4 linked regions of the Homo sapiens genome follow. The protein of the gene in region 3 interacts with the protein of the main gene of each other region in a pairwise test. Each region holds a gene or a part of one and is shown on either strand. Other genes may lie near its edges.

What was found. Proteins that work in one complex are often made in the same cells at the same time.
Region 1: the proteins of CYB561 (region 3) and SEC22A interact in binary tests that used the Homo sapiens proteins (3 or more experiments, as listed by UniProt).
Region 2: the proteins of CYB561 (region 3) and TM4SF18 interact in binary tests that used the Homo sapiens proteins (3 or more experiments, as listed by UniProt).
Region 4: the proteins of CYB561 (region 3) and TMEM65 interact in binary tests that used the Homo sapiens proteins (3 or more experiments, as listed by UniProt).

What each region holds. Positions count from the first base shown.
Region 1 is NC_000003.12:123,204,943-123,208,442, reverse strand, and holds part of SEC22A (vesicle-trafficking protein SEC22a), read right to left. Parts: intron 2,143-3,500; exon of another isoform or gene 1,336-2,142; intron 1-1,335. UniProt on the Homo sapiens protein: May be involved in vesicle transport between the ER and the Golgi complex.
Region 2 is NC_000003.12:149,323,637-149,327,136, reverse strand, and holds part of TM4SF18 (transmembrane 4 L6 family member 18), read left to right. Parts: intron 1-2,114; coding exon 2,115-2,257; intron 2,258-3,500.
Region 3 is NC_000017.11:63,439,807-63,443,306, forward strand, and holds part of CYB561 (transmembrane ascorbate-dependent reductase CYB561), read right to left. Parts: intron 1,022-3,500; exon of another isoform or gene 921-1,021; intron 462-920; exon of another isoform or gene 394-461; coding exon of another isoform or gene 386-393; intron 1-385. UniProt on the Homo sapiens protein: Transmembrane reductase that uses ascorbate as an electron donor in the cytoplasm and transfers electrons across membranes to reduce monodehydro-L-ascorbate radical in the lumen of secretory vesicles.
Region 4 is NC_000008.11:124,317,202-124,320,701, forward strand, and holds part of TMEM65 (transmembrane protein 65), read right to left. Parts: intron 2,991-3,500; coding exon 2,885-2,990; intron 1-2,884. UniProt on the Homo sapiens protein: Essential for maintaining proper cardiac intercalated disk (ICD) structure and function as well as cardiac conduction velocity in the heart.

The sequences.
Region 1 (3,500 bases), on a different chromosome or scaffold from region 3:
CAAAATGATTTGGCAATTTCAACAAGAGTCTGAAGGCATACCTTTTAACCTCAATAAATTTAAATATATACCTGTCTTGAGAAAAATAATCAGAAATCCAGGCAAAATTTTAAACAGAAAGACATTCTTCCACTCAAATAACTGAAAGCAATCTAAATATCCTATAAAATGGTGATGGTTAAGTAAATTATAGTATATTCATATAACAGAATATAATGCAGCAACTAAAAGTTATGTTTGTGGAGAAAGTTTAATAATGTGGTAAAATGCTTACATGTTAAGGAGAAAAAAGTAGGATAAAAATTGCAAATGTTGTTTTACACAAACATAAGGATAAAGAGACGAAGATAAAGAGAAGGAAAAAGGGATTGAAAAACGGATGCAGAAAAAGATGCCAAATTAAGAATATGCTCACCTCTAAGAAATGGTATTATTGGTTATTATTATTTTATAATTTCCTAAATGTTCTCAATATTCACAGTAGACATATACTACTTTTATAATCAGAAAAAAATTATTTAAAATAAATCCTAAAGCTAAAGGAATATTGGTTTTAATGTTGTTCTCAATCTTTTTACCAGAAAGTAAATCTTAATGGCCTATTTTATTGGATTCTCTTCTTGCTTTACAAAAACAGATGAAAGGACTTCACAGGCCTGAGTCTGAAGGAACTCAGGTCAACAGTCACTCAACCTTTCATAAAATACACAGTGGCTCTCAAACTTTAGCTTGCATAAGAAGTTGAAAGTTTAGTTAAAAATGCAGATTTCTGAGCTCTGCCCTCAAAATTCTGAACCACTGACTGTGGGATAGGGCTTGACAATTTGCTTATTGTCTAAGGCCCATACTTTTTAAAACATTAAATTAAAACATGTTCACTATCTAAGATTAAGTGATAACTCTTCTCTGTCAGGCCATCAAAGCACAATGTCACTAAAGGCTTCCTCACTAGTGGTGAGGCAACTGGTGAAAATTCAAAAATCTGATAAAAATCTCACAGGCATTTTTCCAAAAATATTGTATCTTAGAGACTAAATTAATCCTTACCTGCCCACTTAATCTAGGTCAATATTATCTCATTCCAAAAAGGAAAAAATGAGTAATATATATAAAAAAAAATACCACAGAAAACCAGTTGTTACAAAGCTTGTAAATCAGGAGCTGATAGTTTTCACTGCTGTGTGAAGTCAAAATATGACTTCCCATTCATGGTGATAACTGATCTGACAATAAAAATTAACCCAACTAATAAATCTAATGCATTAAGTTCACTATCCCTTTTTCCTCTTTTCATGAGGAAAAAGGAGAAATCTCTAGGTGTTACTGTGTCATTACCCTTTAATATTTTTCTCCTTCAGAGACAGGGTCTCACTGTGTCACCCAGACGAGTGTAGTGGTGCGATCTCAGTTCACTGCAACCTCCACCTCCCAGATTCAAGCAATTCTCATGCCTCAGCCTCGCGAGTAGCTAGGATTACAGGCATGCGCCACAACACCCAGCTCATTTTTGTATTTTCAGTAGAGATGAGGTTTCGCCATGTTGGCCAGGCTGGTCTCAAACTCCTGGCCTGAAGTGATCTGTCCACCTCAGCCTCCCAAAGTACTAGGATTACAGGCATGAGCTACCACGCCCAGCCTCTCCATTCATTTAAAGAGAAAAATATCCAGAAGCAAATTAGTCTTTTTACTACAGTGGAGTCTTCAAACTGAAGTCCCAGTGTGACATATCCCAATTGGTGTTTTTTTCCATTCATCTAGTTTTTTTCTCTCCTAAAAGCAGTAGCATGAAAAAGTTGGGATCCCTGAAGAGATATCTATACTATAAACCCCTCTTTAATTTTTTTTTTACCATGTTTTACTTAATTATTAAATCACAATTGTAACATTTAGCCTAAGTGTAAGAAAGTAGGAAAATGTCTTACTCTATCCCCTTAAGCGTTTATTATTTAACTATAAAACTGTTGTCTTTCCAGAAGTACACTGCAACACAATAACCATTCTGGGAATTAATTTGAGGGTGAGTTGTAACTTGCAGTTCTAAATACCCACATTTTAGTATTTAAAAGCAGATTGGATGGGGTGCCATGGCTTATACCCATAATCCCAACACTGCTTGAGGCCAGGAGTTCAAGACCAACCTAGAAACATGGTGAGGCTCTGTCTCTATAAAAAAAATTAAAAATCAGCTGGGCATGGTGGCACACGCCTATAGTACTTGCTTTGGGGAGGCTGAAGCAGGCCCAGGAGTTCAAGGCAATGGTGAGCTATGATTGTGCCACTGCAGTCCAACCTGGGTGATGAGAGAGATCCTGTCTCAAAAAGTAAAATAAAAGTAGACTGTATTATTTTATGTCTGGCCTCTCTAGGATCCTAATAGAAATATTATGAATAGACTTCATTAATAGGTTGCCAAATTTCATGTAGTCTTCAAAGTTATTCTTTAGTGACTTGGAGGACAGATCAATAAATATATGATCCATGCTTTCTAAAACACATACTGTAAAAAGAATACAATTTGTAAGTTCCATTCGTTTACCAAACATTTACTGAATATCTAATGTGTCCCATGAATTATGCCAGATAGCAGGAATGAAGAGTCCTACCATCAAGAAACATCACTCCTCAATTAGAGAAACTCAGTTGAAAAGAGCAAACAATGCAGGTGTGTTGCCCACCACTTCACTAACTGGAAAACTAAAGTTGGACAAACTTACATTTCAAATACTCCTTTTTTTGTTGTTTTTTTGTTTTGTTTTGTTTTGTTTTGAAACAGGGTCTCACTCTGTTGCCCAGGCTGGAGTGCAATGGCTCACTGCAACCTCTGCCTCCCAGGTTCAAGCGATTCCCCTGCCTCATCCTGCCAAGTAGCTGGGATTACAGGTGCCCGCCACCATGCCTGGCTAATTTTTGTATTTTTAGTAGAGATGGGGCTTAACTGTGTTGGCCAGGCTGGTCTCAAATTCTGACCTCAAGTGATCCACCTGCGTCGGCCTCACAAAGTGCTGGGATTACAGGTGTGAGCCACTGCGCCCAGCCTCAAATTTTCCTAATATGTACTTTAGCCTTTAACCAAAAGCAGAACACAGTAGTTACATTCCCTGTCAAAATTATTACAAGGTTGTCAGAGAATGGTTTCTACTTATCCATAGATAAGATTTTTCTTAGGGAAAAAATTAAACCTCTTTCTACCACAGTAATTTGATTCAGCATCCAAAGCACTTGAATTTAAGCCTGACAAACGGGGATGAATGTCCAATGATCAACGTCAGGCTTAACTAATTTGTAGACAGATTCCAACCACCTTAGGCTAAGCTGTCTCTCCATCAATTCAATAAACATACCCCTACTTTTTTTCTTTTTACCACGGATTCATAATATAGTTTGTTTTTTTTTAAACTAATCTTATCTGGACTGTGCTAGCAGAAAAGGAAATCTGTCCATGTCAGGCCTAAGCTAGGTTAAAGTATCTTTAAGGTCTTAAGGAGGGTTGTGGTTGGGAA
Region 2 (3,500 bases), on a different chromosome or scaffold from region 3:
ATCTACTAAAAATACAAAAATGAGCTAGGCGTGGCGGCACGTGCCTGTAGTCCCAGCTACTCAGGAGGCTGAGGCAGGAGAATCGTTTGAACCCAGGAGGTGGAGGTTGCAGTGAGCCATGATCAGGCCCTGCACTCCCGCCTGGGTGACAGAGTGAGACTACAACTCAAAAACAACAACAAAACAACAACAACAACAAAACCCCAGCTTCTTCCAGGTCTATGGCAGGGTAAGCTCAAAATGAACCTGGAACATCTTGTGCCAGAAAGCAAGAAAATGTTCAAAGAATGACATGAGTATGTCAAAGGGCATAGGAGTTGACCTACAGGGATGTTCACATTGGCCGAATTTGGACCATCTGTGCATCTAAAAGAATAATCGCATTTATGGATTATAGCACAATGAATTAGAAGATCTGTGAGTCCAGAAAATATAGACAGAGGCAAAGGAGAGAGGAATGGGAAATGGAAGTTGTTCTGTGCAGAAAAATGATAACATAAATGCAGATAAATTATAGCATTATGAAAGCAGCACATTGGAACCACAGTGATTGCTGGTAATCAATGAATATGAGGATCATCAGTGGATGCTAAATCCATCAGTTGAAATGTTATTAAGAAACAGAATATGACACTGTCTCAAAGCATCACCTTGGCAGTTATTTACTAATTGCCAAGAGGAAAATGTACCTATCCAGGGAAGAGATCTGAAGGATACTCTTAACCAAGAGATCAAACTTAGCACCACCCTTAGCATGAAAGGCCCACAATGTACACCACACCCATTAAGTATTCTCGCTAAAATGTTTGAATTCAATTGTGAGAAAATAATCAGAAAAGCCCAGAATGTGAGACATCTACAAGACAACTGTCAGGGATTCTTAAAAACAGTTTAACACCCCAAAAAACAAAAAGGCAGAAAGACTAGTGTAAATTAAAGGAAACTAAAGAGATGTAGTCTTGTACATAAACCTTTATTGGATCCTGTACAAAAAAAATTTAAAAGTTACAAAATAATAGAATGTTTTTATTCTTAGGAGGTGTATGCTGAAATATTTAGGGGTGAAATATCATAATGTCTGCAACCTAATGGCTCAGTAACAAAAACACATAATAAATACATATTTGTATATATGTACAGGTGTACATATATACTTTGCATGAATATATACACACATACACACAGAGAAAGAGAGAAAGCACAAACAAATATGGTAAAATATTCATGTAGGTGATTCTAGATAAAGGATATGTAGGGGTTTATTGTGCTATACTTTCAACTTTTTTGTAGATTTGACATTTTTTAAGGTTGGGAGGAGGGAAGTCCCTTGCCCTGAAGGATAAAGTCCAGATTTCTTAACCTGGCATTCAAGGCCAGCTCTGGCCTGGATCTACCAAGCTGTACTCACTTTTTAAGCTACTCAAGGGCTGAATTGTGCCCTATCAACCTTGTTTTCCCAGCATTAGTACCATGTCAATCTGTCTTCAGAGCCTTTCTCCTCACTCATCTGAATAAACCCCTCTTAGATTAAACCTACTTTCTCACAACTCTGGTTGCACTGATCTGCCTGTGAATAACACCCATTCTCTCTACTCAAATGAAAACACCCCCCTCTCCATCAATCCTATCGTCACTTGAATATGAATATAAATTTCAATACTATACCTGACATTTTCCTTTATATTGTTGTAAAGATATTTTAATATCTTTATAAGAGGAAAGCAGAGGTCATAGCTTATAATTCTTAGAGAACCCACTCTACCTAGAAAATAACAGGTCTTCAATAGATAGTTATGGGTTGATTGATCACATCCTTCACTGCATTTTCATAAGAGGAGATCATTATTTTGATATCAAAATTCCACAAGGAAAGAATAAATTTAGTAAATTACCTAGTTACCTCTATGTGATGCCAAACTAAACGTTATTTAAAAGCTTATTTTTAAGATCAAATAGGTTTGGATTACTTTTTTTTTTATTTCTATGTGGGCATTTAGTATTGTATAGACTGCATGAGCTTGGGTGAATAGGGGAATGTAGCTATCTGATAATTTATCCACAATATCCCCTTGTCGCATTCTATGGTACTAACCTGCTTCTATGTTTTAATTTAGACACTGCTGTCAATTATCTTTTCTTCCCTCGGAATTGCTTTTTCTGGATACTGCCTGGTCATCTCTGCCTTGGGTCTTGTCCAAGGGCCATATTGCCGCACCCTTGATGGCTGGGAGTATGCTTTTGAAGGCACTGCTGGACGGTAAGGAATAATTCCCCAAACCAAGGAGGTCGGAAAATCAGAAACACCTTGCCTCATGCTCAAGCTCACGCTCATTTTCCATGATCACTTTGGGGTTCCATGTGGCTGTTTTAGTGCAGAATTTCCCTGTTAGTTTACTAATATCCAGACCAATTTGTTCTTGCACAGATCTTTGTTTAGATTTTTTTCTTCAGTCTTTTAATGCCATTTTCATTCAATGTCTTGAGGTTGTCATGGAGCTATCCAAATGAAAGGTGTGTTTCTCCCATACCTCAGATTAAAGTTGTGTGGTTACTATGGTCTGGTCTGGTAACAGCTGGAGCTTATGGACTGGGTGGATCCAGGAACTCAGTTTTGTTTTATGGCCAGGTTGGACATGTGGTCTGTTACAAGTGTAAAAGGGCTTGAGGAGGAGAGAAACCATGGTGCTCTTGGATGGTGCCACTCAGGGCTATAGTAGGAGGGATGATAAAGAGATAGAACAAGGCAGGATGAGCAGGAAAGTACAGTCTGAGGTCCAGGAACATGATTAGGTGCAGGAGTTTGTGGAATGAGCCAGAGCTTATGCAGCTTATACTGGAGAAGGGTCTAAAGAGGTAGCCTTGCTCAGAAGGCTAGTAATTCAGTCAGGAGTCTCACAACCCAATCCCGGATCTCAGAATGCCTCACACTGGCATTGTGCTGGGCTTATTGGGTTCCCAGCACCAGATGCAGATTAGGAGGTAGCAGGGCCCAGAAAGAAATACAGAAGAGGTCCAGAATTCTAATGGAGTAAAATGAGGGAATGTCTGTACCATTCACTGGGGGAAGTTAAATTTTCTTCTCAACTCTCCATGATTAGCTTTATTGTTCAAGGCCCATGTCCATCTGAGGTCTTACATGTGCATCTAGGCCTACATGGCAGAGCTGCTTCTGTGACTGTAGCTGCCTTCATTCTGAAGATTTTTACATGGTGCCATATACCATGACCTTTCTTAGCAAACATGACTCTCCCTCAGGTCTCTCCTACTTGCATATCCATTTATAGGCTCTCTGCAAGAAGAAAAATATGGCTCTTTTTGCCCAACCCCACAGGCAGTCAGACCTTATGGTTGTCTTCCCTTGTTCCCTAAAAATCTCTGTTATTCTGCTCTTTTTCAATGTGCACTGATTTCATATTGTTCAAACCACATGTTTTACAATCAATTTGTACAGTTAACACAATTATCACAGTGGTCCTGAGGTGGTGTACATCCTCAACTTA
Region 3 (3,500 bases):
CCTCACACTCTTGCATTGCACGGCCATTTTTTAGCCAACTAGTTCCCATTGTTCAGCATTTAGCTAGCTTTCGATTTCAGTTTTCCACCAAATAAACAACAGGATGTGGTCATCTGCAAACTTCTCTGCAGGGAATCCTGAAACAAGGGCTAGGTTCTGTTTTAGACTTCTGACACATTCCATCAAATCATCTCCCAGAAACATAGCTCCAATCCACATTCCCAGGGTGGACGGGAATACGGGATTCCAGAAGCCCCAGCCAACAATAAATCCTATTTTTGGAACTCCTGCCTCTGTCCTTATCTGTCACCTACACGGGTATCAGTTCTGTCCCCGCCACCCCAAATTCAAGCCCCATTTCTGACGGTTCACTACTCATCTCTACCTGGACATCCCACAGACGCTTCAAACCCAGCTCGTCCCAAGTCACCTTCTCTCCCATCGTCGCCAAGTTCTCTCATGCCCTCCCCACTAGCTAGCAGGGCTGCCCTTCTTCCGGGCCCAGGTGACACCTCAGCTCCTCCACAGAAGGCTGCCCAGGCCGCCGCATGCTGGCACCCCTCCCCTCACTTCCCTCCTGAGCATCCTCACTGCCCCACCCAAGTCAGGGCCTGCAGCTTCTCCCTCTTCAACGTGACAGACATGCCAGGGACAAAGCCAGCTCCCAACATCATGCTGTCCCCTGCGTAAGTGCCCCCGAGTGCCAGTGAAATGCCAACTGCATGGCATGATCCTGCCCGTTTCCATCTGCAGCCCCCACTGTTCCTGCTAGGCCCTCTAGAGGAGACGCCTGGGCTCACAGAATCCAAGGACATGGCCCAGCCTGGCTCCCTGCTGTGGGCCCACACCCCTGCCTCCACTCCTCAGGCACCGCGGTGCGCAGATCACTCTGTCCCCAGGCTCTCCCGGAGCCTCCTTACCCTCGCGGTGCCCTGTCTGCTCCTCGAAGGCAGGGACGCTCTCACTCCTCCTTGGGTATCTTTGGGTCTCTAATACCCCGAGTCTAACAGGAAAATGTACTGAAAGAAGTGCTGTCCCCCCTGGTCACTTGTTGTCTGTCCTCCTCTCCAGGTCGCCGCCTCCTTTATTAGATTCATCCCCAGAGAGCCTGGCTGCAGGCAGAATCTGATTAGCTACAAATTAGGAAGAACAGAGGGGACATCACCTCTCCCTCTGCTGGGTGACCCGGCAACTTCCTCACACCTCGTGGAGTACAAAGGGCAGGAGAGGCCCGCAGAGCGAGGGGCCGCTGCCCACTCCTTCCTTCCCACCAGGCTCCCTGGAAGACAGTGGACATCAGAGCCAGGCTCTCTTCTCGCAGCGACGACTGCCTGCGGCTTCAACATCCTACAGTGAAATGCCCGGCCTGGCCTCCCGGGGAGTCGGAACCATAACATTGTTTGCTCCCCACCATGGCAGGGCAGACGTGTGCTTGGTGTGTCAGTAGGGTGGGGACCCAACAGCCTGTGAGCACCTGCTCTGTGCTGGGCACTTCATGCCATCTCTAATGTCACCCTTAAATGACACTGTGTGGATAACAGGAGCATTGCCCCAATTTGACAGGCCAGGAAATGGAGGCTCAAAGAGGACAAGCGACAGGCCCCCAAATTCCCATCAGCAAATAGCAGCTCAACTCAACCCGCAGCCACCTGCACTTGGCCAGGTGCTAGGGCCACACAGAGGGGGCCTGGTCCCTGCCCTAAAGGGGCGTGCAGATGAGCTTTGGTACAGACCCAATTTTCAGGTAAGGGTGGTACAAGTTCAAGCCAGGAGCTAATCTGGGCCTCCAAGACCCGTCCCAGCATGCACACGGAAGACGGCACCCCTGCTTTGATGTCTGTGGGCAATAGCATCTCTAGCTCTCCTGCCGAACAGTGGCTGCCTGCTCGTGGCTTTGGCCTTTCCAAGGCCCAGGAACTAGGGTGGTGCTGTCAGTCTTTCCAGAGACTGAGGCCAGCAAGGGTCTGTGTTGGAGCTCACTGAGGAAGCTGCTTTGACGCAGGGGAAGCTCCCGGGCGGTGCCCCCCCTCCTGTGCCAGTCCTCCTGCGTCCTCCCCGCCTCGGTTCCACCATGGCACTAAGCACTGGTGCGTGCAAGACAGCAGGCCCTGACCGAAGGCAAGAGGGAAGGGGTTACAGGAGGGCAAACAAGCCGAGGAAGATGCATTTCCATTTGCTCCTAAGGCGGGTGCCCTGGCCTAGGCAGCCCAGGCACCCGGGGCACCTGGGCATCTGGGAGGAAGCCAGAGATGAACAGCGGCCTCTGGAATGACAGCAGCCTGCTTCTGATTCAAAGGCGAGGCTTCAAAATCTAAGTGTAAGGATGAAAGGAAAGCCCATGGCTGGCCTGCAGGCGACCACAGTCCGTAGGTTCTGAGCGTGGCTCTGTGCTTTACAGGAGATAAGCGGAAGATCCCTTCCGCAACAGGACTCTCGTGAGGCCATTCATTGGACATAATTGATAACCCATTTGTGTGCAGGGAAGGGCTGTCCCATGCCAGAGGTGGGGGTGTACAGGGATAGACATTCTGGTATCTCTGGACAGAATCTGACCCACCCACAAATGTGTCTGCTGCATTTGCAAACCTGGACATTGGGTGAGATTTCTCCCTAGGAAGCAAGGCTTTGAATCGTGGCCCTCATTTCCCAGTCTTGACAGCAAGAATACTCTCTCGCTCTTCCCTCCTCACTGGGCAGCCCTGGGACACCGGCTGTTCTTGGGCCCTCTGTGTTCTCAGAGCAGAACTGTGGGCAGCAGCTTCAAGGCCTGGAAGCTGCCACTCCCCACCCCCAAGGGCTCCACTGCCCTGCAGACCAGAACCTTGCAACCAGAGGGAGCTCACGTAGCCCCTCACACAGTCACTTGCCTTCCTCTGTGACAGCTCAGGATGAGGGTGACAGATCTCTGGCAGTTTCTGGATCTTAGAGCTGTGAGAGTCACCCTCGTCCCCACCCACTCACCCTACCTGCAGCCAGAATCCACTTAATGCAATCAGCGCATTAGGGACAGCATGACCCGCAGATCTTCACTGAGCCAAGCATCGCTCTCCCTCCCGGTGCCCACTGCGTTTTATTAAAAGGCAACCAAGACTAATCTCATTATTGGGGACCAGACACTGCACATGGTGCACAGCCTCGGGGGCGGAAGGCGGAGCAGGGGAGGCTGGGAAGCGGGCAGCCTGGGCTGGCTACAGCCCTCCTTATCAACAGCAGAGTTTGAATTGAGTTAGGAAAGACTGTGACTGCGGAAAGGCCGATATCTCTTCTTGATGGGTGAAGGGGAAAACAGCTCAATTGCCCTAGAGCGTCCTAGCATGTGATGAAGGAGAAAGCAAAGTGTGGTGTGAGCTATTAGGGTACTTTCTTAGCACCCCAGTAGCCCCAGGAAGAAGGGGCTTCCCAGGCAGTGCTCCCCATCCCATGCCAGTCCTCCTGCATCCTCCCCACGCTTGTACCAGCATGGCACTAAGCCCTGGTGCATGCAGAGACACCAGGCCCTG
Region 4 (3,500 bases), on a different chromosome or scaffold from region 3:
ATTCCATCTAACTTAACATTAATTTTATATTTTATTCTTCTTCTTCACCTCCCGTTAGTGTTTCAATTCATTGTCATTTGATTTTTCTTCTTCCATCAGTCCATAGAAATTGCTCAGAAATGATTATCAATGAGCAACTACATACCAAATCCAAAAACAAAAAAAAATTTTCAGAAATTTTATTTGATTTCTTTATATCAAGAGGAATTGGTTATCATTCATTACTTCTTAAAACTTCGTCCTTGATAGCTCCCATAAGACTATGAGCTCTTAGGTATTTTCTAGGGTTCTTTAATTCTGCACATTTTCTCTGGAACAACAGTTCTCAAATTTTAATGTACAACAGAATTAAAACACAAATTGCTGGGTTCCGTCTCCAGAACTTTTCATTTTGTGAATCTGTAGCAGGCACATTTTAAGGCGGCCTCCATGATACCTTCCTTCTGGTATTTAAGTCTTTGCATAATCTCCTCCCCTTGAGCATAGGTAGGATGCTCTAACTTGCTTTGAGTAATAGGAAAGGTGATGGGGTGTTACTCCTGTGATTATATTACATTACATAAGGCTCCATCTTGCCATCCTGCCAGCAGACTCATTCCCTTTCTCCCTTGCTGGCTCTGAAGATGCAGGCTGCCATGTTGTGAGAGGGTCTACTGAGAGGGCCACATGGCAAAGAACTGCAGGTGACCCGTAGATCGGGGTGTCCAATCTTTTGGCTTCCCTGGGCCACATTGGAAGAAGAAGAATTTTCTTGGGCCACACATAAAATACACTAACACTAACGATAGCTGATAAGCTTAAAAAAAATCACAGAAAAAATCTCATAATGTTTTAAGAAAGTTTACCAATTTGTGGTAAACTTTTGGATTACCAAAAGCGAGTTGCACAAGCTTGCTCTAGATGGAGGGAGGCCTCCAGGACATGAGAGTGCAACAGCAAGCCAGAGGTTAGGTCCCTCACAGCCACAAAAAAATTAATTTTGCCAAAGACCTGGGTGAGCCTGGAAGTGGATTCATCACCAATTGAGCTTCTAGACAGGAACGAAGTCCTAGCTGGACATGATTGCAGCCTTCCAGAGGACCCATTTAAGCTATTCCTGATCTGACCCACAGAAAATGAGAGATAACAAATATATGTTGTTTTAAGCTGCTGAATTTGCATGTTTTTGTTTTTTTTTTTTTTTTTTTTTTTGAGATGGAGTCTCACTCTGTCACCCAGGCTGGAGTGCAATGGCTTGATCTCGGCTCACTGCAACCTCTGCCTCCCAAGTTCAAGCAATTCTCCTGCCTCTGCCTCCTGAGTAAGCTGGGATTACAGGCGCCTGCCACCACGCCCAGCTAATTTTTGTATTTTCAATAGAGACAGGGTTTCACCATGCTGATCAGACTGGTCTCAAACTCCTGACCTCAGGTGATCCACCCGCCTCGGCCTCCCAAAGTGCTGGGATTACAAGCATGAGCCACCCCATCCAGCTGCAATAATTTACACAATAATAGATAGGTCTAAGATGAAGACTGAGTGTTTGCATTTCTAAGAAGTTACCAGGTAATGTTGATCCTGCTGATGCTGGCACCACATTTTGAGAACCACTCTCCTATGAAATCTCATCTTCTCCCATGGTTTGAACAATCATCTACCTTTTCAGTGAGGCCTACAGTGACTCTCCTATTGAATATTGCAGTCTGCTTCCATCCTAGCACTCCTAGCCTCTTCTACCTCGCTCTGTTTTCCCTTTTTATTCTCATAACACATATAAACTTCTAATATGCTAAATATTTTTATTTATCAGATTGTTTATTGTCTGTCTCCTCACTGCTTGAATGTAAGATCTATCAGAAATAAGATCTTATTTTGTTAACCAATGTATTCAAAACTCCTGTATCTCTACTTGGCATATAATACGTAAACAATAAGTATTTGTTGAATGAAGGAGTGACAATACCCATTATCACTAACTCTGACCTATCTAACTCTTGACTCTAACCTAAATGCCTACTAGGTGTCACCACTCAAATGTCCTATTAGTATCTCAAATTCAATGCGTCCAAAATAGAACTCATTATCTTCCCTTACAAGCTTATTCCTCCTCCTTTTTTTCTTGATTTTATTGATGGCATCATGATCCATCCAGTTTACTTCTTACTTAAAACTCCCCTGGCTCTCCATCACTTAGGTAAGAGGCTCAAGCTCCTTAGCATTCACATACAATAGCTTTCCTGTCTGATCCCTGCTTACTTCTCCAATGTTGTCTCCTGCTGCTGCTTATACCTACAGCTACTATATATTATATTCCTAAAGTCGGTTCTTGTATTTACCTAAATATACCCTTTTTTTATCATCCTCTTCTAATTGCTAGTCAGTATGCTTGGAACTCCTCTTATTCATCTAGTAAATGTCTCATCTATAATTCAAAAATCGGCTTAGATCTAATAATAACCAAGAAATCTCCCCACCAAAAGAAGTTACTCCCCACAGTGTTAATTCCCTTACCTGTATCATGGTTATATCTTGTACATAATTCATTACTGCATATGTCATACCAAATTATAATTTGTTTATATGTTTGGTTTTCCACCTAAACAAGTTCCTCAAGGATAACCACAGTTTATTATTCGTTTTATGTTCTTTAGACCCCAACCTATAAGAGATACTCCCTAATACTAAGTGAATTACAAAATATTTTTTAAAAATTAAGTATACCTACAAAAAATAAGGAGTTAATAACACAAATTACTGTTCTTCTGAAAACTGCCAACGTCTAGACAATTTTTGTTAAAAACTCCATTCAAACCAATTTTAGTCTCAAATTTCTCAAGGGCCTGAACTATACAGAATCTTGCTCTGGCTACCCAACTCATTATCATAAACCATGTAAATTACTTACCAAATGTGTACTAAGACGTGTTTGCCACATGTCAACTTGCTTTGGTGTGAGATCAGGAATTGACAGGCCTAACCTGGAAGCCAATGCTTCAACGTAGCCTGCAAGTCTTTGAAGAAACAAGACAATATGATATATAGGTTATGTTTCAATAAAGCCTTTACAAAAGCAAACAAAACAAAACAAAGACATGAGGACAAAATATAGGTTTTTAAAAAGACATGCAAATGTCCTCATATAGTAAACTAATTACTACAAGGAGAAACAAGATAATTTTACATTTGCACTTGTACTCTAGAAATGACATAAACATTCTTTACAACTTTTAATTTTTATTGCATATATTGTTTAAAAATATTTTATTAACATATTTAACACAAAGGAAAATTAATGACAGAGCAAGTATTCTCTATTATTATTTTTAAAAACAATTCAAGGTATGTAACAATTTGTACAGATAATTAGAATTTCTGCAATTATTCCAAACTCAAAGCAAAGCACTTTAACATATGATACAAATTAGTAACTTATCAGACAGCAAAAGTTTCCAAAATTCCTCAGATTGGTAAACTAACAAAAACACCTTAGAACTGTCAGGCCAATCTCAAGTATTTTATCA